Linked DNA regions of Homo sapiens: all the other regions are reported to be linked to region 1. The links are microRNA targets in miRTarBase. Many come from high-throughput screens and were not tested one by one. Region 1 holds a microRNA gene; each other region holds the end of a gene's coding sequence.

Region 1 (5,074 bases):
CCCCTCCCTGGGGCCCCACACAGGCCTGAGGACTCCCCACCGCCCTCAGAAGCCCCCAGGCTCCCCAGCCAGGCACTACCTCGTCCCTCACAGCTTTCCTGAGTTCAAACTTGAAAACTCTGCCCCTTAATCCCAAAATCTGGGTGGTGTGGCAGCCACGGATACCTGTAGCCCCAGCAAGGTTCCTGCGCAGGGCAGGTGGGAGCAGGACCTTGGGCCGTGGGTGTGCCCGGCCCGCGTGTCCAGGTGGGTGCAGCCCCCAGGGCCAGGCAGAATGGGGGAGGCCTGGCACCTCTCGGGCAGTGGGTGGGGTCTCCAGGCAGGCCAGGCCCTGCCACTGGAAGGGAGGTGGCCCCTTTGCCACCAACCTGTGGCTGTCACCGGGGCAGGTGTGGCTGGACCAGGAAGCCCTCCTGGCTGGCGCCTGGCTGCCTCCATCCTGTCCGCAGCCCTCGCTCCTGCTGGCCGGCACCATACGCTCTTGGTCACCTGCTCAGAGAGGCCCCCCAGGGCCACCGGCTGCCCCCTCGGTAGCTCCCTTCAGCACAGGCTGAGGTGTCTCCACTCAGGGACTCCCCCTTCCCCCAGAACCTTGACCTGAGCTGACCACAGGAGAGTCAGGGAAGATTCCTGAGCAAAAGAAGGAGGGAGGGAGGGACGGAGAGAGGAGGAGGAGGGAGGAGGGGGAAGGAGGGATGGAGGAGAGGAAGGAGGAGGGGGAGGGAAAGAGGAGGGAAGGGAGGGAGGGAGCCTCTCCCAGGAACCTTGGGGGCCTCCGGGGCCGGATGCAGTGTCTGGGGTTCTGTCCTCAGCTGGGCCCTTTGCACGGCGGGGGTCTGTGCACGTGTGGTTAAAATAAGGAGCTGGTCCAAGCATGGGTGCGTGAACTGCAGACTTTATTACTATACAAAGACTTTTTTCTGTTTTGTTCCCGGTGCTTATGGAGAGGAGGAGGAGGAGGAGAAACCGCACAGGGAGGCTCTGGGTACGGCCCCGCCAGCCCCAGCAGGGTCCTTCCTGTCACACCCCGTGCAACGCAGCAGGCGCTGTGGAGAGTGAGCCCCACTGCAGTGTGGGGCGCAACTTCATCCGAGGGGTGCTTGGAGGGACTGGCCAGACGGGCACAGCGGTGAGGAGGTGCTGGGATGGGGAAGGTCCCCGAGCTCCGGGCGGTGTTGGATGAGCTCAGGCTCACAGGTGTGGCCCTGCCTGGCCCGAGCTCTCCAGGTGTGTCCAAACCTTGTGTTATATGCACCTTGCAGTCCAGGGCTCACCCGTGCGGTCTGGTGAGGTGGACGCCACATTCTGGGGGTGGCACTCCAAGTTCTTCCCCACACACGTCGCTCAGGCGGCAGCAGCATGGGGGTGGTTTCAGCTGGCCCTGCGGGGGACTGCCCCATCTCCCCAGGGAGGAAAGAGGGTCTGGAGATAGCCCCGGGTGGGGGAGGTCAACCTGCAGATCCCGGCTTGGGGACAGCTCCAGATGACACCTCGTGAGCCGCCTGGGGTGGAGGGGCCCCCAGTGCAGGGCTGCGTGGCCCCAAGCACCTGCCTTCCCTATCCCATGGTCTTGCAGCTGGGCACCGGCCCCGCCCGCCTCAGCCCCAGAGATGGGCCCTGGAGGGAGAGTGTGGTCTGCATCCCACGGCTGGCCCCTGGAGGAGGAGGGCCAGGGCTGGCCCCGGGAACCTCCCAGAGGTCTCTGCGTCCTGCTGCCTGGCCGCTGAGACGCTGTGACATTGTCCCTGCTGGGCATTTGTGCTCCTCCGTGCCCTGGGCTCAGGCACTTTGGGGGGCCCAGCTGCTTCTGTCTCAGCCTCCCCAGGTGGCGAGGGGGCTGGGGCTGTGGGGTGGGGCTCCGGGTATCTGTGACTGTGACCCCAGGGGCCAGGCTGATAGCACGGGGTCCACAGCATCTGCCCGGGGACTACAGCTCGAGGGCCCCAGGAGGCCGGGTGGGCACAGGCCATGGCGAGGGTGGGGCACAAGAGCCCCAGACCCCGGCGGCTTTGCACTGATGGGCTGCGGATGGGCACAGGCCATAGTGAGGGGGGCATGAGAGCCCCAGACCGGGCGGCTTTGCACTGATGAGCTGCAGGGCAGGCAGCTCTCTCCTCTAACGGTGATCAGGCAGCGGATGGACGGTTTTACCAGACAGTATTAGACAGAGGGCCAGGTCTAACCATGTCTGGTAAGACGCCCATCGGCCGGCGGTGGTGTGGGTGGCCTCCGGGTCCTGGGCTGGTGTCTGCGGGGCCTGTGAAGGGAAGGCCCCGGGGGCGGCTCCTGCCACCTCCTGCAGCTGCCCTGATCCCTCCTGGGTCTGCAGAACGAGCCCCCGAGGCACTTCCCTGACAGCCCCCATCCCAGCACCTGGTCCCAGCCCAGCCTGGCTGTGTGGGGGTACCCGGGAGCCACCTGGTCACCCAGGCCCTGCTCTTGGCAAAGGTTCCCTGCAGCCCCTCGCTGGCTTCCTGAAGCTCGGTCGGGTTAATGAGTAACAGTGAAGGGCAGCCTCTCCCCGGTGGCTGCCCCCTCCCCAGGCTGGGGCCTTGTGTGGGGGTGCGGTCCCAGGCGCCCTGGTTGCAGATGGAAAAGATGAAACAATGGGTCATCCTGGCCTGGTGGGTTTTGGACAAAGTTCCTGTTCTTGTTGACTGGGGGAAGGAATGAGACCCCTTGTCCCTCAGAGGGCAAGCGCAGAGCGTCCCCGCTCCCCTGCATGGTGGGGCTCGGGAATCTGAACCCACCTTGTCCTTCCTGCGCCCCCAGCAGACCCTCCACGGAGCCCGGACCACGTGAGAGAGGCCACTGTTGCTCTTCCCTCTCCAGCCCTGGCATCCCAGCCCTATGGCCTTTCCTGGAGCCAGGTCACCCTAAAACCCAGCCTGGGAGGTTGGGTGGGGGAGGCACAGCGGCTCCGGGAGGGGGAGCAGGATGCCCTCCAGGCCACCTGTGGAGGCACCAAGGGGTCCTCAAGGTGTCAGACCCAGCCTGGGCGTGAGTGACCCCGGGGGCACCCCCGGCAGAGGCCGGCCCCTCCCCTGGGGGCTGGACTTCGGAGCTGACACAGGCCCTCTGCCGCCCGCTCAGCCCTCCGCCCTCACCCGTCTGCTGGCCCCGCTCGGCCCTCCGCCCTCACCCGTCTGCTGGCCCCGCTCGGCCCTCCGCCCTCACCCGTCTGCTGGCCCCGCTCGGCCCTCCGCCCCAGCCCATCCCTGGAGTAGGAGCTCCGGATGTGCCTCGGTGGTGTCCCCGGCGAGCGGCGGGTCACCTTTGAACATCGTTACCAGACAGTGTTAGAGTCAAGCTGGGAAATCCAGCACTGTCCGGTAAGATGCTCACAGGGGCCCGGGAGGGACGTGGGGTCCCGCCAGGCAGGCAGGGGCTGCTGTGGAAGCCCAGGGAAGAACCGGAGCGGTGAGCAGCCAGGGGTGGTGCCGGGACCGGACAGGGCTGGCGGAGAGGGGCTTGGGGGCCCTGAGACTGCACACAGGCCCACCCTCCCTGCTTCCTCCAGGGCAAGGGGACCCTGGGGCTGCTGACCCGGGACCAAGGCGGGGGCACTGGTCTGCTCGGTGGCCGGCCCACCCTGTCCGGCAGGAGGGAAGATGGCTGTGGCCAAGCTGGGTGGGGCGGCTTCCTCTGGGTTCCACGTGGCTCCCGGTTGGGCCTTGCCCTCCTGAGCCCTCTGTTGGGTCCTGCTCGGCCCGCACCTGCTGGGTGTGACAGCAGCTCCCGCCCAGGCGCTGTGGGCAGGGCCCGGACACCTGAGCGTCCTAATCCCCAGATCACTGTGGGGCGCCCTGGGTGCAGCTGCAGGAGGCCTTGCATTCCGGGGTCTCTGAGATGCTGGTGGGGGGCGCCCCAGCCCCCTTCCGAAGGTCACGTCCCCCCGTCACTCTCCCCAGAGCCATCTGGCCCGGACGGGGTGGGGTCCGGTGAGCGGGCTGTGTGGGAGGGGAGTGTGGGGCTCGGCGGGAGGCCCTGGGGGCCGGGACGGGGTCGGCCGGTCGCTGCGTGCAGGGCTCCGCCGTCATCATTACCAGGCAGTATTAGAGACCTGACTCCATCCAATGCTGCCCAGTAAGATGGCCACGGCTGCCCGAGCTGGGTCCGGGGGCCGCCCGGCTGAGGGTTGCATGGGACTCGCTGGGAAGCTCAGTAGCTGGGGGGCCTCGTCCTCCTGGGGCACTGAGGACAGCATCGCCGGAGGGCAGGGGCCCGGGTGAGCCCCACCCGCCAGCCCTGCCGAGTCCAGCAGCCACCAGCTTTGGGTCCTGGGGTGGGCACCTGGGGGGCCGAAGTGTCCTGGCCAGACGGCCGAGGACTAGGTCGGAGTGGGGCTGACACGGGCCCTCTGCCCGCCCCGCTCGGCCCTCTGCCCCCACCCCTCTGCGGGGGACCTTCCCTCTGGGTGGTCCCATAGGAAGGCCTGGACAGCAGCCCCAGCCCCCCGGGCCCCACGTGCTGCCTTGTCTGAGGCAGGGGACAAGGGCCTCTGTCTCCAGGATGGTGTTCCAGGAGCTGCTTCCCTGCCCAGCCCCTTCTCTTCTCAAAGGCCCGGTGTCTGCGAGGCTCTCGAGACAGAACGGTCCCCGCCACCTGGAGACCCCTCTCCCATGCTGCCCCGCTCACTGCACAGCGTCTGAGGGCAGGGGGTGCAGGCGGGGGTGGGGGTGGGGGTGTGGGTGGGGGTGCGGGCGGGGCAGGCTCCTGACCCTGCCCAGCCGTCCCTGCGGTTTGTGTGTCTGCTGGTCTGGGGTCTGACCCAGGCACAGAGGCAGACCGGCCACAAACACAGACACAGGCAGTCAAGCCTCAGACGCCGCGAGGGCTGAGCCGCCTCTGCAGGGGGGCAGGAGGAAGTGGGCAGCCCTGTGGCCCCTCCTTGCTCAGGGCCCTGCCTGGAGCCCAGAGACCCTAGGCTTCTACTCCAGGCACACTCAGGACCCGAGGGAGGTTCAGCCCTCAGGCCAGACCAAGGCTCCCCGCCCGCTGGACACGCCGTCCTTCCTGTCCTCCTTCCCACCCTTTCTCTGCAACCACCTGGTGCCAACTGGGCCCAGAGAGC
Region 2 (5,074 bases), not on the chromosome of region 1:
AGGCTGAGGCAGGAGAATGGTGTGAACCCAGGAAGCGGAGCTTGCAGTGAGCCGAGATTGCGCCACTGCAGTCCGCAGTCCGGCCTGGGCGACAGAGCGAGACTCCGTCTCAAAAAAAAAAAAATAATAAAAAGTTATTCATGTACAAGGCTGAGTACAGTGGCTCACGCCTGTACTCTCAGCATTTTGGGAGGCCAAGGTAGGAGGATCAGGAGTTGAAATCCAGCCTGGGCAACATAGCAAGATCTTAAAAAAAATTCATGTACAAATCTTTGTGAGGGCACATGCTTTCATTTCTTTTTGTAATATCTATTAGTGGAATTACTGGGTCGTATATTAAGGGTATGTTTAACTTCATAAGAAATTTCCAAACTCTTTGCCAAAATAATGTATCATTTTACACTTCTACCAACAATGTATGACGAGTTCCAGTTGCTTCATAACCTTACCAACATTTCATTATCGGCCTTCAAATTATAGCCCAGGAGGCCCGTCCAGTGGGAAAACAATGGAAACTATAATATATAAATTCAAATTTTCTAGTAGCCACAATTTAAAAAGAATAGTTGAAATTTATTTTAAAATTTTAATCAAATCTATTCAAAATATTATCATTTCAACATGTAATCAGAGTAAAAATTATGGATTTTTTTTTGCACTCTAGCTCCAAAATCTGATTTATATGTTTACAACACATCTCAATTGGGACTAGTCATATTTCAAGTATTCAATAGCTACACATTTTTAATAGCTGCTGTTTATATAGCTGATAACAGAGCTATAGACATTTCAGCGGGTATACAGTGGTAACTCATTGTGGTTTTAATTTGCATTTTCCTGATAACTAATGATGTTGAGTATATTTTCATGTGTTTTTTGGCCATCTGTATATATTCCATTGTAGTAGTATTCACACAGTATAATTGTAGTATATTCACACAATGAAAAGTACTCAGCAATAAGAAGAAATGAAGTCATGCAATAACTTGGATGAATGTCAAAACTTTATGCTGAGTGAAGAAAGCCACACACAAAAGATGTGTGTGATATAATTCCATTTGTATAAAGTCTTAGAAAAGGGAAAACAAATAAAGAAAGTAGATCGGTGGCTATAGTGGGGGTGTGTAAATGATTGCAAAACTGAAGGACAGAAGCTTTTCGGGTGATGGAAATGCTTTATATCTTGGAGAGGTGGTTACATGAATATATGTATTTGTTGAAACTTACTGAATTGCACATACAACATGAGTGAATTTTATGTAAAATATACTCCAATAAAATTGACTTAAAGAGTATAAACATTAGTGGTATCTACTACGTAATCTGTGAGGTCAGTGAAAAATAAAACCATGGGGTCTCTTTTTCAAAAGCTAAGAATTTCAAGACCGTAACAGCACAGTAAGCTTGTCTGTCATTGAATCCCCAGTGATAAGCAGAACAGTATATCTTATAGTAGGTCCTACTAAAGCTTTGTTGAATGATTTAAAAAACTTGAGCATCTTAGTGCCCAGCAATTTCCATTCAAGAGTAGCATAATATCCCTTCCCGCTTCTGCTATTTGTTCCCTAGACTGGAGGAAAGAGTATGATACTGGATACAATTTAAAAAACCATGCTTTTCCTAAATATGATAGAAACAAATACTCATTTAAAGTTCTTTTATTTTTAAATTCTTGGAAGGTATGAAGAAATACAACTCAAATAACTAGCATGAAGAGAAGATAGTTCGGTTCAGTAAGTAAAAATTATACAGGTATCATAAAATTCTTGTTCTTAGGGTATTCTACAGTGCAAGTTACAGGCTGACTTACAGTCACAGTGTTACACCTAGTATAGGCCAAAAAATGAGCTAGGTAATAGGGATAAAGAGGTAAACAAAACAGCTCCTTTTTTTTTTAGTGGTTTGTCTTCTTTAGAAATCGACTTATAGATAGATATCCCAGTTATCAACGTTTATAAGGACTCTCCCTAAATACATCTAATCTATATTGCCATAGACATTTCATTGGGATTTTGCTCCAGTGCTCCTTAACATAGCTCAGAATTATTATAACAGAGGTACTTGGACTTTATTTAAATGTATTATGAACTGAATGTGTCCCTCCTCCCCCACCCCATCGAAATTCCTGTGTTGAAGCCCTAACTCCCAGGGTAGCTGTATTTGCAGTAAGGATGGAATTAAGGTTAAGAGATCATAATCCTGATCTGATAGGATTAATGTCCCTACAGGAAGATGCCAGAGGCTCACTCACTTCCTCCCTCTCTCTGTGCGTGCACAAAGGAAAGGCCGTGTAGGATGCAGGCCATCTGCAAGCCAGAAGACAGTCCTCAACAGAAACTGAACCCTGCTGGATTTTGATCTGGAACTTCCACCTTCCAGAACTGTGAGAAAAAAATTTTCTGTTGTTTAAGCCACCCACTCAGATATTTTGTTATGGCAGCCTGAGCCGATTAATATGTAAAACATTCTATATAAAATATGAAACATTTGACTCAAATAAAGCGACTGGCTTAATCACAGTCACATAATCTTGTAGCATTCTAAGACTTATATGTGTATATACACAACATAATGGTATGAGCCCTAAAAATCTGAGTGATTCATACAGAAATTTTTCCTAAAGGAAATGTAAATTGATTTTACTTTATTACTGACCATCCTAAACCAAGGGGTATATATTTTCGAAAAACTTTCTGAAAAGGAAAACTGGGTTTTAAATGATCAAAGATACCATTTAAATTTAATATTTAAAATGCCTGCAAGGTGGCTAAGTGTCACTGTGACTCACACTAACAGTTTCATTTCATAAATGCAAGTGTGAAATGATGAGATAACAGCATACTAATAACTGAACAATCTGCTGAAAAATATGGCCAAAAATTTCTTGAAAAATCTTAGAGAAGAAATAGGTGCTTCCATCCTTGTTCCATGATAACTTGGTGTTAAAAAAAAAAACATAAAGCAGGATTAGCATGTTACGGAGCACACAGAATAGTGGTTACAATGCTTTCACTTATTTTACTTAAATCAAAGTCTTCAAAATAAACTAAAGCGCAACTAAGAGATTGGAGAAGAGAAATAACTAAAGAGGAAGCAGGTGATGAATGAAGTGCTAATAAGACTGTACATTTTTAGGAAAGACAGTGGAACAAATGACATATGGTATTAGTATTACACAATGATTAAGTGTCATATTCTGTGGTAACACTCTTGAGTCTGAACTCTTACTCTGCCAATTACAAGTTACATAACCTTTGTTAATCTATTTCCCCTGTCTAAGCCTTGGATTGATCTTTGGTAAAATGGTAAAAGCAACAGTACCTAACCTGTAAGTTGATAATTAAGTGGCATGACACGTTAAACATTTAGCATAGTACCTGTAACATGTTAGCTTTTATGTGAATCATGTATTATTTCTTCTTTTTAAAAGTAAAACTACTGATATGACCCAAATCTATGTGAATGTGGGTATTTTGAAATAAATTGATGTGGGAAAAGTGTCAAATTAATTTTTATATTTGCCTATTGCAAAGGCTCCCTGCAGACTCTGAACTGCCATCTCAACCTTTTCTTTGGCTTAAAGTCTTTGCTCCAAAATTCATCCAGGGAATTCATTAGTCCAGGGATCCCATCTGTGGGCTCTAGTTGTTTTCCTGACATGCGTACTGAGATTATTTGAGACTATCCTTTTGATTTTTCTGTCTTAACTACTTGCAGTTTCCTCCATCTCAGCCCAATGTATCATAGCTGCCAGCGTATCCTGCTGTCACACATTTATTGGGCTTGTTGAATGCATATAATATGGCTTCAAGGCAAATACACTGATTCCACTCTCACATTCTCTTGCAAGCCTCCCAAAGCTCTGCCTCTCATTTTAAGAAACTCTGCCTTAAATAATCAAACAAAGACATCTGCCAAAAACACTTGGCTCTGCAAATAGCAAGCAGATTCATTGCTCTTCCTGTCATTGGCAAATGGCAGCTTGGAAATTAGAACCGGGGAGAGTAAAGAGGCTGGTTACTGAGAACTCTGATAAAGACAGGGGACAGGTGAATTTTGAAAAATTTCTAAGCCAAAGAAATACATAAAAGAACTATTCTTGAAATGTCCAGGAATAGTGTGTGGGACCTTGCACACAGCAGGTCCTTAGTAAATGTTTTATAAATTATAAATCATGGCATTACTTCTGCCAGAGACCGTCAAATTATCATTTCTTTTTAGTCTTTCCCTGCAGTCCTAGAGTATCGTGTAATATATAAATAGATGAAATCAGGAAACAGTATTTCTCCTTGTGGCATTGACTGGTTTTAACCATTTTCATGTGCAAGCATTCCCTGTTCATTTTTGAACTATGTTGGTTTTTCTTTATATTGATAATCAAAATTATGTTAAGGCCCTTAAAGAAGAACACAGAGTCTAGTAAGAAGAAAAAAGACTTTCAGAGGTTTTTTTTTTAGGTCATTTAAATGTGTTAACAGTTAGGTTACAAAAAAAATAACATTCTGTCTCTGTTCTCAAATTTGAGTTAAGAATTTTTCTCCTTTTAAAAACTTTTAAAGGTCCAGCTTTTGAATAAAAAAGTCGAAATTACTCTAAAATATACGAATTCCAAATACAAGCTCCTATTTCATTTTGAATGACTTTATTGAGAACATTTTGCAAATTAGATTTTACAATTTAACATTTTACAATTAGAAATTTTATCTGCTATTACATAAGCTGCAAACTTTTCAAAAACACTACAGAAAATCTTTTATTTCTTTGGATTTTTCTGTTCCATGTTGAGCTCCTGAGATATATTTTTTCTTTCAGCTTCATTTTCATCTTCCTGTGAAATAAATTTTAGAAAACATTAAAATATAAACTTTAGAGCATTTATCAGCTATACTTGACAGATTTTAACTGCATCTGTAGAACTATGAACTACTGTGATTCTAATAATCCTAAACACAAATGGTAAAATTATGTAACATTTAAATATTTGCAATAGGTGCTGTTTTATAGAACACATTAAAATTTTCTGTATGTTTTTAAAAGCAACCAATTTTAACAATGCCCTAAAAATTACTTTGGA
Region 3 (5,074 bases), not on the chromosome of region 1:
GGCGTTGCTGCAGCCTGCAGCCCGGCCCGAGTCTGTCCCAGTGCCTCCTGTGTGCCTGGCACCTCCTCAGGCATCTTCCTGGCTGCCCCATGTTGCAGCTGAGCCTCAGCGTCCTGCTAGAACTGCGTGTGGGATTTGCTCACTGCCAGGATGGGACTGTGGCTGGAATGGAGGCAGAAAGAAACACATCTCAAAGGCAAAAATGACGCACGTTGTTGTCTGGAAAAATCTTAAGTGACCACAAATGTGTCTCCCGGTTTCTTTTTTAGTTTTCTTGAGACAGAGTCTCACTCTATTGCCCAGGCTGGAGTGCAGTGGCGCGATCTCAGCTCCCTGCACCCTCCGCCTCCCAGGTTCAAGCAATTCTCCTGCCTCAGCCTCCCGAGTAGCTGGGATTACAGGCATGCGCCACCACACCTGGCTAATTTTTTTGTATTTTTAGTAGAGACGGGAGGGTTCACCATATTGGCCAGGCTGGTCTCGAACTCCTGACCTTGTGATCCGCCCGCCTCTGCCTCCCAAAGTGTTGGGAATACAGGCGTGAGGCACCACACCCGGCCATGTGTCTCTGGTTTCTGTAGTATGAGAGTTCCTCGAAGATGCTACAAAGCCGCAGGAACTGAGGAAACACTGTCCACCCCTGGCTCTGAGAAATGCTGGGTGTGTTTTCTTAGGGAAGGAGCAGAGTCCTGCTGTTGCCCTCCTCCTGACATGTGTGTTCCCAAGTCTCTCTTCACCGGCCCGTGGGCTCCTAGCCTCACCCAGGAAGGGACCTCCTCCCTCGGCTGCTGTTGGCTCAGGTTCCCTGCGCCTCCCTGAGACAGCCCTTTCTAAGACACTTTCCTCTGCTGTTCCAAAGACCTAGGGCCACTTGTCCCCACTCACCCACGTTGCCTGGACACCTGCTGCTGACATTGATTGGTGGATCCGTGAGAGCATTCTCTGTTCCCAGCAGTGGGGCACGCTCGTGCACGTGTGAGCACATGGGAGAGCATAAGGCTGTCGAAGTGTAGCCAAGCACCTCACGGAAGAGAGAATCCGTGGCTTTTTTTTTTTTTTTTTCCTTTTTCCTTTCTGGCAATAATGAGGCAGGAGAAAAGTCTTGTCAGTTGCCACGAGAGGGATAATCACACTTGCGGCTCTAATACTTCCCTCTAGAAGGAGGCTCCGTAATCAGACCTTTTGTGTGGTGAGGGTCTGGACCCCCTGGGGACAAATCGGACTTTCTGAGGTGGGCAGGGGCTGTGTTTTCTGAGGACATATGGCAGCCTTTAGTTTTAAGAGTTGGGAAGGAAAAGAAGGAACAGTGAAGCCTGTGGCTCCATGATGTACTTTGCAATCCTGGGCCAGGGGTGGAAGGAAATAATGGAAGACTTCCAAGCACTTCTTCCAGAGTAGCTGGAAAACCACTTTCAATTCTACCTCTTTGCAGCCACCCCCTGGCACAGGAAGGGCACGAGCACTGACGGCCACAGGGTCACCCGGCACACTACTGGGTCTGTCTGGACCAGACCCACTGCCAGAGTGGCCACTTCACATGTTGGCTTTTTGAGACAGCGTCTTGCTCTGTTGCCCAGGCTAGGGTGCAGTGGTATGATCATAGCTCACAGCCGCCTCGAATTCCTGGGCTCAAGGAATCCTCCTGCCTCAACTCCCCAAAGTGCTGGGATTAGAGGTGTGAGCCACCATACTCAGCTCGCTTCACACATTTTTTTTCAGAAAGAACCCTCCAAAGAACCCAAAGAAACAGAATAAAACTCCAGAAAACAAAGAGGAGAGTTTAGTTTGAGCCAATACACAATGAATTTTATAGATTCTTCCAAAAAGTCTCTAGGTATACTTAGGCCACCAGGTACAGTTAAATGACACAGGACACACATCCAATGTAAAATCAAGTTTTATATGATTCAAAGAGAAAAGTTACATTACACATGCTCGTTTAAATAATGTCAAAGTCTGTTACATAAAACATAATTATGAAACATTTTAAGTCTTATCATTCAAACTACTTAAAAGGCTCAAAGTCACAAAAGATCAAGCAAAACTGCCCAGGCAATAAAGTGCACGAGGGGAGCCCACCTCTCCAGCGGCCGTCAGCACCCAGAGCCGCCAGCTGAGGGCTCCATGCCGAATCCATACACAAGGTTTGTGGTTCTCAGAAGAGTTTTCAGACAGGAACTGTTTCCAACTTAAAATCTTTCAACAGACAAATGGAGGTGGAAGGGGGATGGTTTACACAAAGTATTTCCAAATGTAATCAGGAAATGGAAGTGTAAATTAAAACCGTTTTCAACATGTATCTCCTCTTTAGAAATATCACTGCTTGGAGAATGTTGTGACAAGCAACCAAATACTCAAAAGACCTTATCCACCAGAATACTGGCAGGACTCACATTACTTTGCATGTCATAATTAAGAAAAATATCCAAATTTGATGCCATTTATAGTGTGTACAGTCAAAAATGTGTATGCTGATTTTGATGAGCAGGAGAAAGGACTGGGTGGTGAGGAAACATGAACTATGCACAACATGAGACAACTGTGCTGTCTCACGAAGACACGACACTCACCTATGGAGTGTCCAGACTGAAAACCTCTGAATAACACACACATTTGTGTCAAGTAACAGCTGATACTAAGGGGCAAGTTAACAGGTATCAAGTCACACACAATGAATGACCAGGTGGAGATTTTATCAGACTACAAAGAACAAAACACAAAACCTAATTTTATTCAATATTCCACCTTACCATCATTTAAATAAAGGTAAATGCTGGTAATTAACATAGACAAAATTTAAATACATACTGCACAATAAAAAAAATTCCCAGGCTACCAAATTAGTGCAACATTCTGTATGTTCCTACATTTATTCCATTGCCTGAACTTCCAATGTTTAACAAAAACCAGTATCAGTGGCTTCTTGAACACAGGTGGCCACATTCTCTCGGTTATCTACGTGCTCATACAGTTGAAAAATATTGTCCATCTATTTTCTAGGTAGACTGTAAAACACACCATTCCAAGTAATTTTCTGTTTGGTCAAAACAATTTCCTTCAAACAAAATGAACAGAAAGGCAGTTGGGTAGTATTACTGCCATTTAGCGTAACTTGCATTTCCTTGTGTTTCTAGTATTTGGCAAACAAAGGAAGCGGAATCTTGGCACTGCCTGCCTTCACATGCATCTCGCCCCAGCTAAGCTGTGCTCTGGTGGAGTTTCATCCAACCAATACAGACATTTCCTTTTTTTCTGAGAAGTTACTCTACCCACAATATAGTACGGATAAGGCCACAGCAAAAGGAGTCAGAACTGACAATTGACAAAGCAGCTGGATTTGAGTGTTTCTTTTTTGGTGTTTTAGGTACAAACAAGAAACTGAATGGCTTGCTTTCAGCAGAGCCATGGCCAAGACTATTACAGACTAGATCCTGCAGCAAGTACTGGTCCCTGGGATCTGCCCAGTGGCTCATGTTACTCTCTGGGGTACATCCTTCATGACACACCATGGACACAGCTCACTAGTTCCAGTCAACCAAAATTTTAGTTCTTTGGTGACAGGAATGATTGCCTAGAATTTCCTTGAAAACGTTATGAAGAAGCTGACGGCAAAATTTATTTTTCCCTTTTAAGAGGTCCTTACTCAACCAGGTCCGATTCCAAAAAGATCTAAAAGGCCAGATAACTTGTGGTTTTTGTAGTGGAATAACATGTCCAGTTTACTAAAAGAAGGGCCATTAGGAAAAACTTTGTTATTAAACACTGAAAAGAAGGCTGCAAAATGATCTAGCTAGAAATTGGTGATTTGAGCACCAACAATATAAATATTTTTCTAAAAACCAGTATAAAAATTAGTACCCTGTCTTATTTCTACAAAACATCAATAGAAAAGGTTGTAAAAATCCAGATTTTGTAAACTTTATTGCCGAAATATTTGTTTGAATGCTGGTGATTCAGATTATCAAATTTTCTACCATTTCTTTAAAAAAAAAACCAAAACAAAAAAACTTCTGAAACTACAAAAGATACTGAACAGGGTCCCAAGTGGAAAAGAAAAGTTAACATACTTTCATCAAAACCAGCTCCCCGATCTTCCCCTAGGCCGCCAAGACCGTTTTTTTTGGGTGAGGCAGTGGGAGAGGAATCCATCAGTTCCATTCCTGGAAAGAGGCTTTTTAAAAATCCCATGAGTGATGTCCTAATGGACCTTTCAGGCAGAGGCTGGCATGCTCACCAGTGGGCTCCCCGGGCTCTCTGCAGAGGCGATTCTGTTCAGCTTGCCAACCTCTGCCTGCCAGCCTGGGATCTTCTTGGTCGTCATGTGGCGCCGGGCATGCTTCGTCAGGTGGTCACTGCGCATGAAACGTCGGTCACACACCGGGCACACAAACTTCTTCTCCCCTGTGTGAGTTCTGCGGTGGCGTGACAGCTCATCCGAACGAGCAAACTTTTTATCACAGCCATCCCAGCTGCAGTTGAAAGGCTTCTCCCCTGTGAGGTGAGAAAATACATATTAAAGAGAAAGGAAACGCTAAGCACCTTATTCAAGGGGTTAATTCATGTCATTTTAAAATCGTGTTCATCAAACTCAGAAGAAAGTGGTATCTTATTACTCTGGAATTGGATGATTTGGGTCAAGAAATCCTCCAAAAGGCATTTATTCCTCCCACACTTAAGATGCAGCTATGTTAGCACCCAAAGATTTCAAGCTAATCTTTCAAAATATATTTAAAAATAAATCAGGCGAAGTACAAGTACAGCGGCTCAAACCTATAATCGCAGCACTTTGGGAGGCTGGAGACGATCAGTTGAGCACAGGAGTTCCAGACTAGCCTGGGCAACAAAGTAAAACCCAATCTTTACCAAAAAACAAAAATAAATTAATTAAAAATGTAGCATCCAGCCAGGCGCAGTGGCTCACGCCTGTAATCCAAGCACTTTGGGAGGCCGAGGCGGGCGGATCACAAAGTCAGAAGACCGAGACCATCCTGGCTAACACGGTGAAACCCCATCTCTACTAAAAATACAAAAAACTAGCCGGGTGTGGTGGCGGGCACCTGTAGTCCCAGCTACT
Region 4 (5,074 bases), not on the chromosome of region 1:
TATGGGAAACTCATAGTCTCTGCTGGAAGAGTACAACCCTGGACAGAACTCTAAAATCTATGTCCAGTTGGCATTCCAGATTTTTTAAAATCTGAATTAGGAAATGAGCTGTGTTACCAGTAATCTAGAAACTATTTCAGATCTCTTAGTTATTGCTCACATGTAAATGACTCTTTACCTTAACATTTTAGGTGCAGTTTTTGTCAATGGAAAAGAAATGACAAATCAGTTACCCGCAGTTACTTCTGGGTCCACTGTCACGTTTGACATTGAAGCCGTGACTCTAGGAACCACCAGTAATAATGAAGGTGGACACTTCAAGCTTCGAGTAACTATAAGTTCAAATAATAGAGAAGTGGTTTTTGACTGGTTACTTGATCAGTCTTGTGGTTCTCTTTACTTTGGATGCTCATTTTTCTATCCTGGATGGAAAGTGTTAGTGTTTTAGATGTTTGGGTGCTTGGCTTTGGTTTTCAGGGTCTAACGTAGCTGTCCTCAGCCCAGCGTAGTTGTAATTGCTTTAAAAAAAAAGTTGAATTCATCTCTAACTTAGGCCATTGGAAAGTGTTTACTGGATTCATTTTGTAATATTTTAGCAAAAAGAGACTTCAATGTTGTGGACAAAATCATACAATTCAGTCAATTTTATTTTTAGCATACTGTTAAATATCACATCACAATAAAAATCAAATTGGCATTAAAAGTATAGAAGATATAGGAAGTTCTATACCCTTCCACTGTACTTCTCAAAGTTGGTTATTAGACCAGGAAAACTTAATGTAATATTATTTTTAAAATCATCTTAAAGGATCCAAGTCCATGTAACTCTTTAGAACAAGAGGAATAGGTCAGATAGAAGAAGCTGTGTAATGTATTAATACATCCGTTCATGTGCTGTCCACATGAATGTGTTGACTGTGCTCTCCATGTTCAGGTATTTGTAAGCAGTGTTGACTTTTATCCCCTCTTCAGTAATCTTTAAGTCCCCAAAACATTATAACTTTTTCTTTTTTTGTTGAGACGGAGTCTCACTCTTGTCACTCAGGCTGGAGTGCAGTGGTGTGATCTCAGTTCACTGCAACCTCTGCCTCCCACGTTCAAGCGATCCTCCTGCCTCAGGCTCCTGAGTAGCTGGGATTACAGGCGTCGGCCACCACACCTGGCTAATTTTTGTATTTTTAGTAGAGACAGGGTTTCACCATGTTGGCCAGGCTGGTCTTGAACTCCTGACCTCAGGTGTTCCACCCACCTCAGCCTTCCAAAGTGCTAGGATTACAGGTGTGAGCCACTGCAGTGGACCAATTTTTGTATTTTTTTAAATGCTTGACCAAGTGTCTAAAATAGGCAAGTAGTACCTTTTGTTCTTTCATTGCAATTTGATACAGTATAGGCTACAGTATTTTTACAGGGTAAAACTAGTTATGGCAGTAGTATGCACAGCAGTGTTAGCCATTTCATATGTATGTAATATGCACGTGTGTATCCAATCTGCCTGTGACATGCATTTTACTCTTTGCAGAGAATGAGCTGCAGTCCAGTTTAATGTCAGTTTAATAAGTGGTCTCTTTTTAGCAGAGCAAAAAAATATAGCGTAAATACTTATTTTTTTTAAAAACTTACTTAAATTTGTGTGTAAAATATTTATTTGAAGGACTTTAATATGTAAAAATAATTGTCTTCTATGCCACCCTACAGATTTTATTTTAATGTGAATTATTTTTTTCATTTCATTTTTACCAGTATAGTAAAAAAGTAGAAAAGCAAGTATGATATTTTTGTAAGATAATTTATTTGGGGATTCATGTTCCCTGTTAGACAATCATGACCTTTTCTACTTGTCTTTTTATATATAAGTAGTAGATTTCCACTTGTTTAGGGATTAAGAAGATGTTCTAGAATGTAGATACCTTGTCCAGCCATAGGAATCAAAATAAAAAACTAAAAAAGTTCAGTGTGTGTACTTTTTTCTTCTGTGAGATTTGGTGAATCCAGTTTTAACCTACTTTTCATTTGAAGGGAAAACAGGCTTCTTGTGGCTCCAGGCATTTTAGTAAGATATCACTGTGACTTGTGAAAGGGTATGTGTACCTTCTTGTACTTTCTTTTAAAAACTTTTTTAAAAATATTTTTTGTAGAGAATGAGGGTCTTGCTGTGTTGTCCAGACTGGTCTCAAACTCCTGGCCTCAAGCAGTCCTCCCCAGCCTTGGCCTTCCAAAGTGCTGGGATTATAGGCATGAGTGACCACACCCAGCTGGTTACTTGTACTTTCCTATATTCTGTGTCTGATACTGAGCATCTTGCCTGACACAATGTGTGCAGAATGAATGGTGGATCGAATGAGTCGTTTTCTCCAGATATCTTCATCTCATTCCTTTAATTCATCAAATATTTGTTGAATGTATTTATTTCTTAGCCTCTCTAGGGAAATGACATCTTAATTTATACCTATAGAATCTGCCTGTTCACAGGAGTGCCTTAAACCTAATTTGAGACAGGAGTGGTAATATTTGGAACTCTGAAACTAATTTTTTTTGAGACAGAATCTCACTTTGTTACCCAGGCTGGAGTGCAGTGGTGCAATCTTGGCTCACTGCAACCTCTGTCTCCTGGGTTAAACGGATTTCCCTGCCTCAGTCTCCCAAGTAGCTGGGATTACAGGTGTGCACCACCACACCTGGCTAATTTTTATACTTTTAGTGGAGATGGGGTTTTGCCATGTTGGCCAGGCTGATCTTGAACTCCTGGCCTCAAGTGATCCTCCCACCTTGGCCTCCCAAAGTGCTGGGATTACAGCCGTGAGCCACTGTGTCTGTCCTTGAAACTAATTTAAATACTGACTTTTTTTCTTGAACTGTGAAGATTTTTTTTAAAAAAATGAACTCATTAGCTGGGCGTGATGGCTCACGCCTGTAATCCCAGCACTTTGGGAAGCCAAGGCAGGTGGATCACCTGAGATCAGGAGTTTTGAGACCAGCCTGGCCAACATGGTGAAACCCCGTCTCAACTAAAAATGCAAAAATTAGCTGGGCATGGTGGTAGATGCCTATAATCCCAGCTACACAGGAAGCTGAGGCAGGAGAATCACTTGAACCCTCCGGGAGGTAGAGGTTACAGTGAGCTGAGATCACATGATTACAGTCCAGCCTGGGCAACAAAAGCAAAACTTTGTCTCAAAAAAAAAAAAAAAAAAAAAAAAAAAAATCATTCTGTTCAAGTAAGTAAGGGAACCTAGTACTCCAAACCTATGTGCTAGGAGGGAAGAGTTTGTGTGATGATATGATCACAAGAATTGATTTTTTGGCTGGGCATGGTGGCTTATGCCTAGCCATTTTTTATTCACTTAAAAAAAAAATTTGGCTGGGTGTGGTGGCTCACACCTGTAATCCCAGCACTTTGGGAGGCCTAGGCTGGTGGATCACCTGAAGTCGGGAGTTCGAGACCAGGCTGACCAATATGGTGAAACCCTGTCTCTACTAAAATTACAAAAATTAGCTGGATGTGGTGGCGCACGCTGGTAGTCCCAGCCACATGGGAGGCTGAGGCAGGAGAATTGCTTGAACTCGGGGGGTGGAGGCTGCAGTCAGCCAAGATCTTGGCACTGCACTCCAGCCAGGACAACAGAGCAAGACTCTGTCTCAAAAAAAAAAAAAAAAAAAAAAAAAATTTAGCCAGGTGTTGTGGTGCCCACCAGTAGTTCCAAAGCTACTCAGGAGACTGAGGTGGGAGAATTGCTTGAGCCTGGGAATTCGAGGTTGCAGTGAGCCTAGGCAACATTGGTAGACCCCATCTCTTAATAAATAAACACAAACAAAACAAAGAAATAGAGCAACTAGATAGATAACAAAAGCAAAATCCCCTGGATAATATCTACAGTAAGACTAGGTGACCACTTACCCCCTCAAATCCCAAAATACAAGCTAGTGAAGACGAACTACAAACAGATACAAGACCTGCATGATCTCAGTGTCTGTGCAGGATGAAGAAGGCGCAAAGCCTGACAGATGTGATGACAGGCGAAACCCCATATCATCGACTGGAACTCCTGGAAAGCACCATGGAACAACTGAAAAGTAGCAACTGAAACTCTAGAAATTTGTTTCCCTCCAATACCAGATGAATGCAAGTGGGCCATGCGTGGTAAATGTGTTCAGGGGTGCTTAAGATCACTTTCACTTTCAATTATTTGCCAGGACTCACAGAACTCAGAAAAGCTCAGAACACTCATGGTTACTATTTAGTAAAGCAAAAAGACACAAATTAAAATTAGCAAGTTTGGCCGGGACTGCTGGCTCACACCTGTAATCCCAGTACTTTGGGAGGCCAAGGTGGGAGGATTGCTTGAAGCCAGGAGTTGAAGACCAACCTGGGCAACATGATGAGACCCCCATCTCTACCAAAATAAATTTTTTTTAATTAGCCAGGCATAGTCAGGCATTAGCCAGCTACTCAGGAGGCTAAGGTGGGAGGATCACTTGAGTTCAGGAGCTTGAGGCTACAGCGAGCTGGAGTACAGTGGCAAATGTAGTTCGCTGTAAAAATAAATGGCCAGGCACAGTGGCTCACGCATGTAATCCCAGCACTTTGGGAGGCCGAGGCCGGCAGATTACGAGGTCAGGAGATGGAGACCATCCTGGCTAACACGGTGAAACCCCGTCTCTACTAAAAATACAAAAAAATTAGCCGGGCGTGGTGGCAGGCGCCTGTAATCCCAGCTACTCAGGAGGCTGAGGCAGGAGAATTGCTTGAACTTGAAAGGCAGAGGTTGCAGTGAGCCGAAATTGCACCACTGCACTCCAGCCTGGCGACAGAGCAAGACTCCATCTCAAAAAACTATTTAGACTAGAATGTAGTAAAAGTGTGTTCAGAGACTAGTTTGGACACAGCACTCCACAGGAATTTATCTTATAAAATACTTGATACAGGTTCAAGTATAATCACTATTAACATTTTTGACAAGATTTTAAAAAATCAAATAACCCACTTATCTATTAGACCAGCACTGGTTTAGTCAATTAAGGAACCCAAAAAAACAAAACAAAACAAAAAAACTCAGAACGTTTAAAAAGAAGTAAA
Region 5 (5,074 bases), not on the chromosome of region 1:
TGGGAACTTACTGTGTGTCTCAGTTTCCTCAGCTGTAAAACGAAAACTACAATAATGTACCTACTTTACGAGGTTGTTGTGAAGATTGAATTTTTATATGTATCTCTCTATATATTTTTTACTTAGACTAATACGGGTATATACTAAGTGCTATGGAGGTATTTGCTAATATTATTTATTCTTTCAAAGTAAATTAGTCCTTTCCTTGTGTATCACTGTGTCCCTTGTCATGCTGTGCCACGTGTCATCATCTTGCCCCCAAGAAATGTCATGATTTATCACATCTGGTCTATAGTAAAATTTAAATTAATTTCAAAAAGGAGACATCTTAGCCAACTTTCTTTAAGAAAGGCTTGTCTTGAGGAGTATTTGAGGTTTCTGAAGATAGGATTCAAATTTTTCTTCCCTCAAATCACCTAAGGTAATCAGTGTTCCAGATCACTTCCTGCCTCTAAATAGTGAGTCGAATTTCTCAATCTTTGATGACCTTTGGGAGGTGATGCAAAAAGGATGAGCAACTCACTAAATTGCCTAGAAATAAGTATTTTGATGAGACGCTTTTCTGTTTCTACTACGTATTTAAACTTAGTACAAATAAACTTAGTACAAATATTTAAACTAAGTACAAATATCATATTAGTACTAACAGTCCTGGAGAAAATTAAAATGTGTTTTAAAATACTTACTGTGCATATCACATAGTTTTAAAGCTGCCAAAACATAAGGTCACAGCATCTAATGTGTAAAATTAAAATTTTGTTGTTATTTTTAATATAATTATCATAGTCTCTTAAAATAGAAAACAAAATGACTATCATCCGAATTGTGAATAAAGAAATAATGCAGTTGTTTATACTAAAAAGAATTAACATGTTGTTAATGTTGTGTAAAGTACCATTATCAGGAAAATGCCTTAATTATTCAACTTCCTAATCCAGATGTTACAGATAATATCATTTAATATGTTTTTCTTGACTTTGTTTCAGGATGAATCATTGCCTCTTACCATTGCCTTTATTAGGCAGTTCCAAATTTACAAAGAATTTGAACTCCTAAATTGAAAAATAATCCACTGGAGCACCTCCCTTCGCCCTTTAACATTATGCAAGGTATTTAAACAAATCAAAGCACTTTGAACCCACATTCATAATCCACAGTGCTTAGGGCTTGCTTTGTCTGTTGTGAGCTCCATGTAATATCAAAAGCTGTTTCCTAAACAGCTCACTAGAACTAAGGCATATAATGTCTTTGCTGCCCAGCGTCCAGGTACTCCTTACCAGTAACATAACACCCTGGTTTTCCTTTAGGGAAACCACCCCCGTCTCTGTTCTCACGCTGTGTAATTTTAGTTCCAGGGAATCCCACTTCCACTTCCAGGGTCATGATGGCCTTAAGATGGTTCAATGTACCTATGGCTCACCCAAAACTCCCAATGGTCATGGTGATTTTTTCAGAGAGAGGCACATTTAATCAATTAGAACCACTGAGACTCAGAAGACCTTTGCTGAATCCTCTGAGAAAGAAAAGGTTTTCTTTCCATCTGTGTGAGCAAACCAGGAGAGAACCTCTCTTTCTTGAGGATGGGACCCCTCTTTCCTTAGAATGAGTGGCAGGTAGGAGAATGTGAGGTCTGGAAGCATGGCAGCCATGTTGCTAAGAAAAGTAGAGATCCCAGAGATGCTAGGGGTGGGAGACTTTGAAAGAGGTTAGGACACAGCACTGCATGAACCCTGAAGTAGAAGACTTGGCCAGTAGCCAGCCTAAAGTAATAGAGAGACCTGAGCCCAGGGAACATGGTGTGAGCTTGTGGATCAAGCTTCCCCTGAACCAGTCACAAGTTTGAAGTTTTTAGTTACTGAGTCAACATATTTAATGTTTAAATCAGTCTGGGTTGAGTTTTCCATTACTTGCAACATAAGGGGCCCTAATGAATGCAGGCAATGTGGTTTAGACTAGATAGGAGCCTTTGGGTCCCAGAATTGTGTTCCCAGGAGCACCATGGTGCTTCCTCTACCATGACTGGGAGTGGGATGGAAATGGGCTAAGGGCAGGCTGTCAGCCAATAAGAGAGATAGATAGGTGATGGCCAGGCGCGGTAGCTCACACCTGTAATCCCAACACTTTGGGAGGCCGAGGTGGGTGGATCACTTGAGGTCAAGAGTTTGAGACCAGCCTGGCCAACATGGTGAAACTCCGTCTCTACCAAAAATACAAAAATTAGCTAGTCATGGTGGCACATGCCTGTAATCCCAGCTACTTGGGAGGCTGAAGCGGGAGAATCATTTGAACCCAGAAGGCAGATGTTGCAGTGAGCCGAGATCGGGTCACTGCACTCCAGCCTGGGCAACAGAGTGAGACTGTCTTAAAAAAAAAAAAAAAAAGTGAGAAACTTAAGGATGGCTTCCATGGTGATACCAAAGGTGAGAAGAAAAGAAGAACCCAAAGACACAGGTTTGGAGTTAGGAGGAGTTTTTGCTTAGGCATCCCAGAGAGAGGTGCCTGAGTTAGCATCACTGTTTTAAAGGAATGGCTGAACAGTAATCAAGTCTTTGTAAATTAGAGGCTGCCTGATTCTCACAGTCAGTTGATAAGGTAATTATGAAAGGTTTTCTAATTAATAGAAGAAATTGGTTGTTAATAGACACTACAGTCTTTCTGTTTTTTAAAAATGGGTGATTATGTTCAAAGAAGACAAAATAGATTTACTTTGAAAAAAATAGGCAGGAGAGAGTGTATATTTTCAGATTATTCTGTTCAAGGGATGCTAAAGACTGGAAAACCACTTTTAAATATGCACTATATTCATATATTTGCCATTTCTGTGTCTCTCATTTAGTAAATAATAACTTTGTCAAACTTTACAATCACAGTTAAATGCTTAGTCTTGATTTTAATATTAGATCTGAGACATTTTCCATGGGTTTGCTCTTTTTCAAAAATTGTTTCTCTGCCTCAGTGAATAAAATTAAAGAGAAATAGAATGAAGACTGTGGGGCAGGGAAACATTTCTTTATCTTATTAATAAGAAAATGAATATTCTCTTTGTCCATTCTGAATTTTAAAAATCTATTTTTTTCTATATAATACTGAAATATTTAACAATTCATAAAAAACATAAGCATTTACATTAAAATACATCCTTAAATAGAGCCCTGTAATTTTTACCAGGAACCTTGTAAAATATGATGAATATACATGCATGAATATTAAAAACAAGAAAGACCACTTAACATTCAAATAGAAATGCAGCATTACATAAAATATAATAAATATCCAGGATATCAAATCCACAAATTGATCACTATTCTGATTTAGATTCTTTTTTCCAGTTAAGACTTTTACTAATATAATTTATTATAATAACCTTATGAGTTAAGCATAACTAATGTGAAAAGAGAATTCAATTAATCTTACTGCTGAAATAACACAAATTTTTGATATTTTGCAACATATTTTAATCTATAACATATAAAACTGTCATTTTAGCAAGAAATACACATCCATATAACTAACTGCTAAGTTAAATTCTCTTCGATGTCCAAAAAAATAGCATTAATAGTATGAAAAAAAATAAGCTAATATTATTTATGAGATAATTTTACTGCCTTAGCTCTTAGGCTTTGTCAATAAATGTTTTAATATAAATCATATAACTTAAGTACTGTATTTACAAAATAGAAACTTTTTAAACAAAATTCTTTACAAAACACTGTCTTTACACATTTAAAGGGTGCTTTTCTTTACAATGTATGAAATTATATTTTTACCTCCACTGTTTACCTCTCCTTTTCCCGCATGTTTCAGGATCCTCCCCCCAGTATCTCAGAGGTGGGTTTTTAACAGTTGAAACTGATCTGTGATAAAAGTATGAATCTAAAGATCAAAGATTGCTATATACCTTATGGAGGTTTTTCCAGATTCTCCCAGTGAAAAGGCACTTAAAATCTAAATCATTCATTATACTTTTTACATATTGATTCTTTGTCACTAAACATCTGTAATGATCATTTTTTTAGGGATATTATATCACTTAAGAAGATTCTTTTTGATTACCTTTCTTTGGAAGTACATGAAAGGGTAAGTCAGCACCCAATGCTTATGTTAACTTTTCAACATCTTCTATCCACACACAAACAGTATAATTTCTTCAGTTAAAATACTGAGAGAATAAATGAGATTCATGTTAATGTCTCCTTATTGCTATAAGAGGTGTCTTTTAAAAATGACTAATGTTCACCCACCATTATTGAGTCCTGTAACTAAGTTCCATATTCAAGGATCTTATCCTGAGTATGGCAGGCCTCCTGGCATAAGGGATCTTTCCTGTTATTTCTTGCTTAGGAAACAGATTATCTTCCTTGTATGTCAATATATATTCCCCAAATCATCAAAAGGTGAATATAAACCTTTTCAACATTAGAATCCCAAGAAATCCACATGATTGATGGGTTGATCAGATAAAGGAAAATATGTCGATCAGGTAAGGGAAACTCTCAGGTCCAAGGTTCTAGGGATTCCACTGCAAGAGTCAACTTTACTAGCGCTGCACAGGGATGGGCACCTCTCTGGTTGCAATGCCATTGTATATTGCTGAGGCATCTTGCCCAAGGCTGGATGGAGTGGTTACTTGCAAGTGTGGACATCAGTCATGCTTTCACACCTCCTGCAACGGACATAGCAGCACCAGATGAACTTACACTCACACCTCTCCACGTGCCTGACCACATGGGTGTTGTAACCTCGGCCACAGCAGAGGAGGTTGCAGCCATCTGCACCCTCTGATGTACGGTTGCATTCTCTGCCTTGTGTCCCTGGGATTCCCAGTTTCTTATCTTCTACACAGTAGTTGGGAGACTTATTAACATAGAGCAGATCATCCTTATGGATTGGTATTTTCCTCTGATCTTTTTCTCTCCTGCGCATTTTCCTCTTTGTTTTGTCTGATATCTGGATACTGTTTTCATATTTATCCTTCAACAAATGGCCAATCTTTTCAAAAGAAGACATGGTTTTCCAGCATGTTTTCACAGCACAGGAGCCGGAAACTCCGTGGCAGCGGCAGTCTACTGACATC
Region 6 (5,074 bases), not on the chromosome of region 1:
AGGACATTGAGTGCTAAAACCACAAAAGTCCCAGCAAACAAGACAGTTGCCCTAGTACAGAGTAGTAAGTGGCACAGCATCCATTTCTGGCCTTGGTAAGACATTGCTGAAAGAGCAACACTGTTGACCAGATGGGCTCTTCTAAATCTGATTTAGCTTTTAAGAGGGCCTGGGTGGGAAGAAGGTGAGGCCTAATAAGAAGAAACTTTTTCTCCTGTTGCCCCAAATTGAATTTAGGCTGATTGTCAGATCTTTTAGGTTTTCTCATTATCCCTATAGAAAACCAATTCTTGCCACATTCCTAGACCATAAGTACACTTTCTCATATCCTAAAGTTAGATGCTGCGAATTATTTCCTTCTTTTTTTTCCCCCTACAGGATGGCTGTGACTTTGTCTGCCGTTCTAAACCTCGAAATGTGCCTGCAGCATATCGTGGTGTGGGGGATGACCAGCTGGGGGAGGAGTCAGAAGAAAGGGATGACCATTTATTACCAATGTAGATTGCACTTTATATGTCCAGCCTCTTCCTCAGTCCCCCAAACCAAAGCTACACAGCCAGATTTCTCAAGCAGTCTCAACTCCAGTCCCTCATCTCACCCTTACTATTGCTCTTGCTTTCCAGTTTGCTTTTGATTTGCATCTTCTCACTAGTAAAACTGCCTTCCCTTTGTTCCTTATTTTCTGTTTTTTCTCTAGAGAGGTACAGTTGTAAGTCAGAGTTAATATAATAGGGCCTGTGAAAACAGAGGCTTTTGCATTGTCTCTTGACATCAGAAGTTACAATAGGCATATGGGCAAAATGGTGTAGCAGGCTCACTGGCCGTTTGTTTTTTAAACACATTTTCACAAGTTTTTGAGACACTGGATTTCTTTAATTAAAAAAAAAATGCCAAGAAACATTATTTATACAGGGTTGATTGCTTTCATGTTGTTATTCTGTACCCTATAGTAGCCTCCATGAGAATCTGGTATTTCTTGCTGCTTGGAACTACTTTGCAGTGATTACTTGGTTGCAGTCCAAGTACTCTCGTTTAGTCTGAGCCTGGAGATGTTCTAGACTTGCTTCTCCCACCTCTGAGATTAGGACAGGAAAAATGTGAAATTTCCCAATTACAGGATTATACGGTACCATCACATCATTTGTGGAAATTGGGGTGACTGTATAGCTGGGATTGGGCTAAGGACTGTGGTCTTATCTGTCCACATACAGCCAAAATGCCTATCCAGAAATCCAGTTCGTTGGAAAGGAAAATTGGTACTCCTGTGCCACAGGGGTTCCAGAAAAGGGAAGTCACTTTACCTTGCGGTGGTGGGATCCTGATGTCTTTCATCCATTTGTAGTAAAAGCTGGTAAAGCTTTTCTTACTCCTGGTTCCCTACCAGTATTTCTAAACATGTCGCACTTTCTCCACAGGCATGTGGTTTTGACCTTTTTTTCAATCTTCTAGAAAGGGAACGGAAGCAGAAGTGGGACATCGAGGGCTCTGCTGTCCTCTGCGCTGGGTGTGGAATGCTGCTGCACCTGTCCCTTCTGCTGGCTCAGGGAAGTGTCTTCTTGCCCACATTTCTGTGGGGAAAGGTTTTTAATCCTCTGATGCTTCCATCTTCCTGTTTAGGCCATGTGCCCAGAAACCTGGACTGATCTTTCTTTAATAGTGAACCCCTGGGCCACTGAAGAGTAACATGGCTCCACTGGACACAAAAGAGGGATGGAATCAACAGGCAGGGGGCCTTTTATAAGCCTTAGGAAAAGAAAATGAAACTATTTCATCTTTGGACTTTTCAATACTATTGGAGTGATTTTTTTCTTTCTAAACAGGGAAAATAATGTTACAAAAGCATCTTTTTTGTTATTTGTTTGCATCCCTCCCCCACACCCTGGTGTTTTAAAATGAAGAAAAAAAACCATCACCTTTTGTACAAAAACTCTTAATGATTAAAAAACAAACAAAACATATTGGCCTTGTCATTTGTGTGAAAGTGGGCAAAGACTGGAATAGAGTAAGACAACTGAAACCAATTTTCATCCTTTTACTGAGGAAAAAAATATTTAATATTTTTGTTATATAAGGAATAGTGCCTAAGGCAGGTACTTATACTCCTGACCTCAGCCCCACACACTCTGGTTTTATAAAGCTATAGGACAGAGCAGAGATGGAACTGAAAAACAGGGTAGAAAATAACATAAATTGGAGGGGAACAGTGGGATGCAGAAAGAATGACAACAGCCACATGTGCCCCAGTCAAATACTTTTAGTCCCTGCAGCAGAAGATGCCAACCAAGTCTCTATACTGGCTGGGGATCCTGCCATGGATGCAGGAGAAAAAATTCAATCACAAGGGAGTAAGTGACAACAAAAAGAAAAAACTCTGAGCCACAGCTACACTGGGAGGGGGGAGGACCAGATTTTGCTACTTCTGTCACACAAGCTAGAAAAACCCTACCTCTCCCATTGGGCAGGCAACCTGACATTCCACCCAGTTCCTTGCCTTACCATACTATGTATTCCTCCTCTTGGAGAATTAAGACCTGGGCTAAATGCTCCACTCCAGGATAAGGCTGAGCAGTCCTAGTTCTCTAGACTGCCTCTTTTATAAAGATTGGATTAAGGTACGTGAAATGGTGAGAACTGTAAAGATTTTAAAAAATAAAGTAGAACCCAGAGAAAATGTCAAAGCTGCCGCCATGTAGCACCAGCAACCAATTCTTGCACTTCTCTTCCCTGTCTCAGTAATCCCCTACAGAAGGTTACATGATTGGAACAACTCTTTCTTCCCTGCAAAGTCTGCTGGTACCAGGTTATAACCTGGACAGTGGAGAGTGTCTGCCTTAGGCTGGTTTGTGCAAGAGGGCCACCTTAGGTCTCCTTGAGGACATTTATCTTGGCGCAGATCTTGAGGGCAGGGCCCAGCTTGATGTTCATGGCACTCATAAGATGTTCTTCTTTAAGTAATAAAAGGGCCTGTCCATCAATCTCCTGTGAGCGAAATTCCTCTGCAATCTCTTGGCAGCCTAGAAGAAATGGTGAGAACATGTAGGTAATGCCAGATGATAGGAGAAGGGAAGCTAAATGAAACTGAGGTCTAGCAATGATTAATTCCAAAGTACCTGTCCTAAATTCAGTAATATGAAGTCAGATGGCAAGCTTTAAAAGCAAAATGAAATTAGAAAGCAACTGGTATTTAAAAAATGGCCAGGTGCAGAGGCTCACGCCTATAATCCCAGCATTTTAGGAGACCAGGGCAGGCAGATCACTTGAGCTCAGGAGTTCAAGACCATCCTGGGCAACATGGCAAAACCTTGACTCTACAAAACATACAAAAATCAGCTGGGCATGGTGATGCATGCCTATAGTCCCAGCTACTCGGGAAGCTGAGGCAGGAGGATCATTTGAGCCCAGGATGCGGAGGTTGCAGTGTGCCAAAATTCATGCCACAGCACTCCAGCCTGGGCAACAGAGTAAGACTCTGTCTCAAAACAACAACAACAACAAAACCAAAGTCCAAGACCAAGAAAGGAAAAGCAACTAAATTGTTCAACCACAGAAATAACTTCATTCAAATAGCTTAGAGACAGGGGAAAGGGAGAGAACAGAAATAAAAGCATGTTTTCTTTTATACTGGCAAAAAGATTCTTTGTGATATTTTTGTTTAAGGGCCCAGAATTCAGACAAATAGCAAGAAGGGTAGGGTGATTTTCATTTCCGAAAAAAACTCTTTGTCAAAATTGCATATAGGCTGAGTGCAGTGGCTCACACCTATAATCCCAGCACTTTGGGAAGCCAAGGCAGAAGGATCTCTTGAGCCCAGGACTCCAAGACCAGCCTGGGCAACATAGGGAATCCCTGTCTCTGTTTAAAAAAAAAAAAAAAGAAGACTAGCAAACAAGCCCTCTTTGAAGAGTGGGGCAACAATGGCCACTTAGTTTCTAATACCCTGCTCCACTGAAAAAAAAAATTTTTTCCCCATGGGAGGTATCATAGTTAATTACACAAAAACATTTTATCCAAAAATTTAGTGAGAAATGCAGCTACATCATAAGATGAGAATCAAACACTGTAAAATTGCTGACATTACAGAAGATAATGTCAACCCAGAAAAAAATTAGGAAGTCAACTTGAATATTAGGAGTAGAGCCTCTATATTAGCATTCAAGCTCCTACTGCTTAAAAGTCAATTACTTTCCCTCTTATCAAGGCCCCTGTGGGATGATGTTAAGGAAAACAACCTGGGTTCTGTTGAAGAGAGGGTCAGTACCTTGGAGAGAAGCAATAAACTCGTACACCTCCTCTACACTCCAACGGCTGGGATTACTGGACAGGAACACAGGGTTGATGCCATGTAATTCCGGTGTAGGTGGAGCTGTATTGGGATTCCCCAGGTCACGTTCTCCATGCCCAGCTCTTACTGATAAAGGCCCAGGAGATGTTGGAGAGAGTGCTTCATCATAACTGGAATTATCTGAACCCCGGCTAGAGTCTTCTTGACCCTATAGGGGAAAAGAGCAAACCAATGAGGTCAGTGTCAAAGGTTTATTCCTCTCTCTTTCTTCCCAAACCACCCTGGGTTGGGCGTAGAAGAAAAACTCATCTTATCATATGTGAAATAAGCAGCACTTTATTTGCAAATTCCCAAAATCTACTCTCAAAGTCTTTCAAATAGAAACTGTATCACTTCCTTGATTCTCCCCATGACCTAACAATTGATCTAGATTTTCTCTCAAGTACAATTGAGAGAAATTGAGTACAATTGAGTACAATTAACAATTGTACTCAAGTACAGTGTAAGGATTAATGGAAACATGAACCAGTAGTTGGGTAAGAGGTCCGGAGACAAAGGGGGTCAGGATCTCTTGGAATTTGTAGTAATGCAATCAATGTGAAACCAGAGTTCTCATCTCACACCCTCTTACCTGGGCAAATGAATTGCCCTGCAGGGAAAGAAAAAAAGACCCAGTTTAAAGGCATCTGGCTCTACAACAAGCAGCTCACCCGGTGGCACTTGCCCTGAATCTTGGCACGGGCAATGTCAGAGGAGCTGCGGCGGGGTCCACGCCTGCGAACGCGAGCATAG

Evidence for each region. The annotated mature microRNA hsa-miR-429 reads UAAUACUGUCUGGUAAAACCGU and lies in region 1 at 2,142-2,163, opposite strand. An mRNA with a match to its seed (bases 2 to 7 or 8) in the 3' UTR can be bound and repressed. Matches are read on the target gene's strand: a 7mer-m8 pairs with bases 2 to 8, a 7mer-A1 pairs with bases 2 to 7 and ends in A, and an 8mer does both.
Region 2: miRTarBase lists PHF14 as a target of hsa-miR-429. The part of its 3' UTR that is shown has no 7-base or 8-base seed match.
Region 3: the mRNA of KLF11 is a reported target of hsa-miR-429. Seed matches in the 3' UTR shown: 7mer-m8 at 2,376-2,382.
Region 4: the mRNA of CRLF3 is a reported target of hsa-miR-429. Seed matches in the 3' UTR shown: 7mer-m8 at 1,395-1,401.
Region 5: the mRNA of WNT16 is a reported target of hsa-miR-429. Seed matches in the 3' UTR shown: 7mer-m8 at 4,156-4,162 and 8mer at 3,082-3,089.
Region 6: miRTarBase lists M6PR as a target of hsa-miR-429. Seed matches in the 3' UTR shown: 7mer-m8 at 1,382-1,388.

Annotation. Positions count from the first base shown.
Region 1 is chr1:1,166,144-1,171,217 of GRCh38, reverse strand. MIR429 (microRNA 429) reads right to left here and starts at 2,213; the gene lies at 2,131-2,213. It overlaps MIR200BHG (MIR200B, MIR200A and MIR429 host gene), which reads right to left. Exons shown (of 2, transcript XR_007065348.1): 2 at 880-5,074. It overlaps MIR200B (microRNA 200b), which reads right to left and starts at 4,114; the gene lies at 4,020-4,114. MIR200A (microRNA 200a) reads right to left here and starts at 3,355; the gene lies at 3,266-3,355. RefSeq lists an enhancer at 1-412.
Region 2 is chr7:11,169,170-11,174,243 of GRCh38, reverse strand. PHF14 (PHD finger protein 14) reads right to left here. Exons shown (of 18, transcript NM_001007157.2): 18 at 4,626-4,828. The coding sequence ends at 4,754. Among named protein-coding and RNA genes, the nearest start is that of PHF14, 200 kb to the right of the region's middle.
Region 3 is chr2:10,051,644-10,056,717 of GRCh38, reverse strand. It overlaps KLF11 (KLF transcription factor 11), which reads right to left. Exons shown (of 4, transcript NM_003597.5): 4 at 1,882-4,491. The coding sequence ends at 4,211. CYS1 (cystin 1) reads left to right here. Exons shown (of 3, transcript NM_001037160.3): 3 at 1-245. Among named protein-coding and RNA genes, the nearest start is that of KLF11, 11 kb to the right of the region's middle.
Region 4 is chr17:30,779,561-30,784,634 of GRCh38, reverse strand. It overlaps CRLF3 (cytokine receptor like factor 3), which reads left to right. Exons shown (of 8, transcript NM_015986.4): 8 at 192-1,951. The coding sequence ends at 448. It also overlaps the pseudogene SUZ12P1. Among named protein-coding and RNA genes, the nearest start is that of CRLF3, 43 kb to the left of the region's middle.
Region 5 is chr7:121,338,895-121,343,968 of GRCh38, reverse strand. WNT16 (Wnt family member 16) reads right to left here. Exons shown (of 4, transcript NM_057168.2): 4 at 2,865-5,074. The coding sequence ends at 4,624. Among named protein-coding and RNA genes, the nearest start is that of WNT16, 12 kb to the right of the region's middle.
Region 6 is chr12:8,937,245-8,942,318 of GRCh38, reverse strand. M6PR (mannose-6-phosphate receptor, cation dependent) reads left to right here. Exons shown (of 7, transcript NM_002355.4): 7 at 379-1,958. The coding sequence ends at 501. PHC1 (polyhomeotic homolog 1) reads right to left here. Exons shown (of 15, transcript NM_004426.3): 13 at 4,993-5,074; 14 at 4,259-4,490; 15 at 852-3,014. The coding sequence ends at 2,860. Among named protein-coding and RNA genes, the nearest start is that of M6PR, 9.9 kb to the left of the region's middle.